Linked DNA regions of Homo sapiens: region 2 is linked to region 1. The links come from fine-mapping of genetic effects on plasma protein levels. A gene starts in region 1. The other region holds a variant in brackets. All regions are shown on one strand. Distances are between the middles of the regions.

What was found. A credible set is the group of variants that fine-mapping cannot tell apart. PIP is the posterior inclusion probability: the model's chance that the variant is causal. Protein levels are from antibody-based Olink assays in UK Biobank. Linkage for the fine-mapping came from a reference panel and not from the study's own genotypes, which makes the PIPs less certain.
Region 2: its variant is the best candidate, but not a certain one, in a credible set for the plasma level of the SORD protein (UK Biobank, PIP 0.58).

The regions. Positions count from the first base shown.
Region 1 is chr15:45,021,432-45,024,376 of GRCh38, reverse strand. SORD (sorbitol dehydrogenase) reads right to left here and starts at 1,182. Exons shown (of 9, transcript NM_003104.6): 1 at 1,028-1,182. The coding sequence starts at 1,093. RefSeq lists an enhancer at 1-463 and a silencer at 1,233-1,402.
Region 2 is chr15:45,035,767-45,038,266 of GRCh38, reverse strand. The region is part of intron 1 of SORD (sorbitol dehydrogenase); the gene reads right to left. Among named protein-coding and RNA genes, the nearest start is that of SORD, 14 kb to the right of the region's middle. The variant A/G (reference allele first, on the strand shown) is at 1,484.

The sequences.
Region 1 (2,945 bases):
ACTCAGTCTATTTGCATTCTGTGGAGGGGACACCACAGATTCTTAAATAGTCAAGAACTGCTAACCTGGATAAGCTTCTGAATTACTGCAGTTTACATACTGACGCATGTACTTTGAGGGAAAAGAGGTACAGGGGAGCAGCAGAGATGGCTGGCACTCATCCCACATACCCACTGCCATCCCAGGCCCATCTGAGAGGGACTTTGTCAAGGGAGGCTTGGCATGACTAGGCTGCTGACTCAGCCACTTCCTAAACTTTGGTGCCACAAGCCAGGGAGCAAAAGGCAGGGTCTAAGGCAGAGGACACACATACAGAATGCTCCTAAAGGGACAGAGGCACGGGATTGGAAAGAAAAACTGCTGGAAAGTGAACCAGACAGGGTCTTAGGGAGAGAAGGATCCTTACAGACAAGGGAGCTATCAAGATCCACAAGTCTGGCACAGGCAAGGGGAACAGCAGGGGTTCTGGAGATGGAGGCCTAGACTGGAAGGAAAGGAGAAGGAGCTGGCACTTCCTGAGCACGTACTAAGTGCTGAGTACTCTTGTGATCATCATAATCCTGCAAGGGAGGTTTATCAGTCCCAAGCAAGGGAGTTAAATACAAGTTCTGCTGTTTCTAAGTGTCCTCTGGCCCCCCTTTCTCTGCTCTGCACGGTCTGCCCCGATAATTCAGACAGCCTTAGCATTTCCTTTGGAAAGGTCAATGACAAGAGGCTGGACTATGAATCTGCAGCTGGCAAAGGAGAGAGAAAGCTTCATTCAAACAGTTTGCAACCGTCCTGGGCACCGGCCACGTGCCAGCCACGGGGCTAGGTTCCGGGAGGCACACGACTAGATCCCTGCCCTTCGCAACAGCCACTACCTGCTGCCCCCACACCCCGAGGGGAACCAGCTGGGATCTGGGCAGCCAGGGCGCTTAAGGTGCGGGGCCGGCGCCAGGCTGGAAGTGGGAAGCCAGGACTATGGCTGGGCTCAGAGGAGAGTGAGGCAGGATCGGTATGCTTCCCACCCTCCTTCCCAGCTTACCAGGCGCAAGTCCCCCGGTCCGTGCACCACCAGGGAAAGGTTGTTGGGCTTGGCCGCCGCCGCCATGGAGCTCTTTTGGCTCTGGAGTGCGGCCTGGAAGGCGCGGGACGTTTGGTCGCTCTGGTGGCGCTACCCAGCCGAGGGTCCAGGGCACTGGATGGAAGGTGGGGCCTGGGAGAAGCGCCGCACGCAGGGGCGGGACTAGGCTTCCTCCTTTGTGCCAGCCTGGGCGGCGCTAGCGTGGAGGGGCGGGGCTTCCCAGCCTCCTCCAGACCCGGAGGCGGGGCGGGGCTTCGGGAGGGGGCTGGGAGCGAGAAGCCCGGGTGCTGGCTCCATCTGCAGCGCGCTGTTTTTTTTGTTTGTTTGTTTGTTTGTCGCCGAGGCTGGAGTACAGTGGTGCGATCCCGGCTCACTGCAAGCTCTGCCTCCCGGGTTCAAGCCATTCTCCTGCCTCAGCCTCCCGAATAGCTGGGACTACAGGCGCCCACCACCACGTATTTTTGTTTAGTAGAGACGGGGTTTCACCGTGTTAGCCAGGATGGTCTCGATATCCTGACCTCGTGATCCACCCGCCTCCGCCTCCCAAAGTGCTGGGATTACAGGCGTGAGCCACCGCGCCGGCCCTGCAGCGCGCTGTTTTTGCCGCCTCACATGCAAGCACACACGGCTGCCTTGAAAACCGCCTGCAGAGGCAGTAGGCACCAGACCAGCGCTCTCAAACGTTAGCTGCAGAAGAATTGGGGTGGGGAATGTGAGGCGCTGTTGAGAATGCACATTCTCAGGACCAGCACAGAGATTCTGATACAGTAGGTCTAGGTCTGAGGTGCTGCCTGAGGGTCCATATTCCTAGCAACGAGAATGCTGAGGCTGTGGGTGGAGCACGGTGTGCACTTTGCGAGACAGGTGCTACCATGACGCAGCGTCCACGTCGGCCCTTTGTCTCCAGCCCCCAGGAAAGGGCCTGGCACGAGTAGGAGTAAATGAATTCGTGCATCATTACATGGGCCTGGTGCTTAAGTATAAAAAAGACATGAGGCCGGGCGCAGTGGCTCTTGCCTGTAATCCCAGCACTTTGGGAAGCCGAGGCAGGTGGATCACCTGAGGTCAGGAGTTCGAGACCAGCCTGACCAATATGGTGAAAACCCCGTCTCTACTAAAAATACAAAAATTAGCCGGGCATGGTGGCATGCGCCTTAATCTCAGCTACTCGGGAGGCTGAGACAGGAGAATAGCTTGAACCTGGGAAGCAGAGGTTGCAGTGAGCTGAGATCATGCCATTCAACACCAGCCTGGGCAACAAGAGTGAAAATCTGTCTTTAAAAAAAAAAAAGCCATGAAATGGAATTTGTGAACCTCTTTCTCTCAACTGGATCTGCTGCTTCTATTCAAAGCAGAGTTTCTGCCCAAACTCTTCCTTCAAGCCTCTCAGCCCTCTGAGAAACAGTGAGGTTTTACTCTCTGAGGAGAGAGGCGCTTCTAGATAGGCCTAAGTCTATAAGGCCCCTCCCTCCTTTGAGGATAATGCTCAGGATTTCATTCCCTTACAGTCCCCCCTCCCCAATATGTAACCGCCCAATGGATTCACCTTGCCTGCTGCCTAGACAAAACTAATTTATCAAGACAGGGGAACTGCAATAGGGAAAGAGTTCATGCAGAACCAGCTATGCAGGAGACTGGAATTTCATTATTGCTCAAATCCGGCTCCCCAAGCATTCGAGCATACGGGGACTCAGAGTTTTTAAGGATAGTTTGATGGGTGGGGAAAGGCCAGTGAGTCAGGAGTGCTGATTGTTTGGGTCAGAGATGAAATCATAGGGGATCTAAGCTGTCTTCTTGGACTGAGTCAGTTTCTGGGCGAGGGCCACAAGGTCAGATAAGTGAGTTTATCAATCTGGTTGGTGCTACGCCTTGAGGGACC
Region 2 (2,500 bases), 14 kb before region 1:
AGCAGCCCGATGGGGGCAAAAGGGCTTAAGGGAGTCTTTTTATCTTTTAATAATTTAGACTGGCTACATCAGAAGGAAGGAAGGAAGGAAGGAAGGAAGGAAGGAAGGAAGGAAGGAAGGAAGGAAGGAAGGAAGGAAGGGAGGATGCGAGGGAAGGAAGTAATCAGTCTAGAAATAGCCACCTCAAGATAGCTGATTGTCACCAAAACCTTCCTCAAAGTTGTTGCTGGTCCCACATCAGACATCAGGGACCGCTGTGTAAAGTGATCCTTCTGTTATACCACGTGGATTTTTTTTTTTTTTTACTTTAAGTTCTGGGATACATGTGCAGAACCTGAGGTTTGTTACATAAGTATACATGTGCCATGCTGGTTTGCTGCACCTATCAACCTGTCACCTAGGTTTGAAGCCCCACATGCATTAGGTATTTGTCCTAATGCCCTCCCTCCCCTTGTCCCCCACCCCCTGACAGGCCCTGGTGTGTGATGGTCCCCTCCCTGTGTCCATGTATTCTCATTGTTCAACTCCCACTTATGAGTGAGAACATGTGGTATTTGGTTTTCTGTTCCTGTGTTAGTTTGCTGAGAAGGATGGCTTCCAGCTTCATCCATGTCCCTGAAAAAGACATGATCTCATTCTTTTTTATGGCTGCATTATACTGCGTGAAATGTTAAACTGCAGGTTAAATTGAAACTAAAGACTAAGGTCTTTATTTCAAACATGGGAGAGCACCCCACCCTCCCTGCTAAAGGCACTAGTAGGCAAATTCACAGACACTGAAAGACAGTTCCACAGCATACAATTCATAGCCTTGCCTCCAGCCTGGCCAGACCTGAACGCCCCATTTCGAGGTGGAGAGGTGGTAAGACTAAAGCTTAGAACAACAGTCAGGCACACCAAATAGGCCCTGGGTCACTAGAGAGAACACTACTGTAAATATTTATTCAAGTTAACAGAGCTGAACAGCTGTGCTCGTACCACACAGCAAAGCTGCAGTGACTCTCCCAGACACGAGAGGGTGCTGTGCCCACAGCCTGTGCTGTGCCTGTAGCAGAACACGCTTGATGGAGAAGTTCAAATAAATTCCTCTCCCTGCACACCAACTTTCTTTTTCCATTCTTTTTCTGGCTGATTCTAATTACCCTTGCAACTCAGGCTTGTCTCCTGCCTCCTGTCTCTGTAGGAGACATGCTACCTGAGCACAAAACCATTTTAACATCAGCCTGTAGGTTTGTAAATATTGCCCTAAGCACACTGTGGAGACTACAATGTTTTAGAAAGTTATTACAGCATGGTTGCTCAAAACCTTGCTTTTCATGTTTCCTTGCCATGATGTTGGCCACAATCCTCTGTTTGCTTAATCTTTTTCTGTCTCAGATACTCTTCCATTTATCCTATTTCTCATCTACCAAAGTTTCTTAGTTTCTCTGAGATCCTGAACTTTCACTTTTATCTCCACAGCTCTTTTTTTTCTCATTCCCAA[A/G]GGTTTTGTCATCTCAATCATATTAAAGGTTTCCTAAACGAATTTCTTTCATTTATTTATTTTTTGTAACTCATCAGCAGTCCCTGATGTCAGATGTCACTGCACTCAGGCTACAGTGCAGTGGCACGATCTCGGCTCACTGCAGCCTCAACCTCCTGAACTCAAGTGATCCTCCCATCCTCCCACCTCAGCCTCCCAAGTAGCTGGGATTACAGGTGCATGCCACGCTGCGTGGCTAATTTTTTTTTATTTTTGGTAGAGACGGAGTTTCACCATGTTGGCCAGGCTGATCTCGAACTCCTGGCCTCAATTGATCTGCCTGCCTCTGCCTCCCAAAGTGCTGGGATTACAGGCGTGAGCCACTGTGCCTGGCCGAATTTCTTATCTTTTAATGAGTGACTACAAGAGGACTAAAAGGAATTGAGTAATTCTTCTTTACCATAGTTGTGTGAGTTTTCCAGAATATTTCACTTCAAGTCAGAAATACATATCTTAATCACATATATACTCCTCTCTTTGTGTCCGGAATTGGTGGGTTCTTGGTCTCACTGACTTCAACAATGAAGCTGCGGACCCTCGCATTGAGTGTTACAGTTCCTAAAGGGGGCGTGTCCGGAGTTTGTTCATTCTGATGTTCGGATGTGTTCGGAGTTTCTTCCTTCTGGTGGGTTCGTGGTCTCGCTGGCTCAGCAGTGAAGCTGCGGACCTTCGCGGTGAGTGTTACAGCTCTTAAGCCAGCGTTTCTGCAGTTGTTTGTTCCTCCCGGTGGGTTCGTGGTCTCCCTGGCTTCAGGAGTGAAGCTGTAGACCTTCGCCGTGAGTGTTACAGTTCTTAAAGGCGACGTGTCCGGAGTTTGTTCCTTCTGATGTTCAGATGTGTTCGGAGTTTCTTCCTTCTGGTGGGTTCGTGGTCTCGCTGGCTCAGGAGTGAAGCTGCAGACCTTCGCGGTGAGTGTTACAGCTCTTAAGGCGGCGCGTCTGGAGTTGTTCGTTCCTCCCGGTGGGCTCGTGGTCTCGC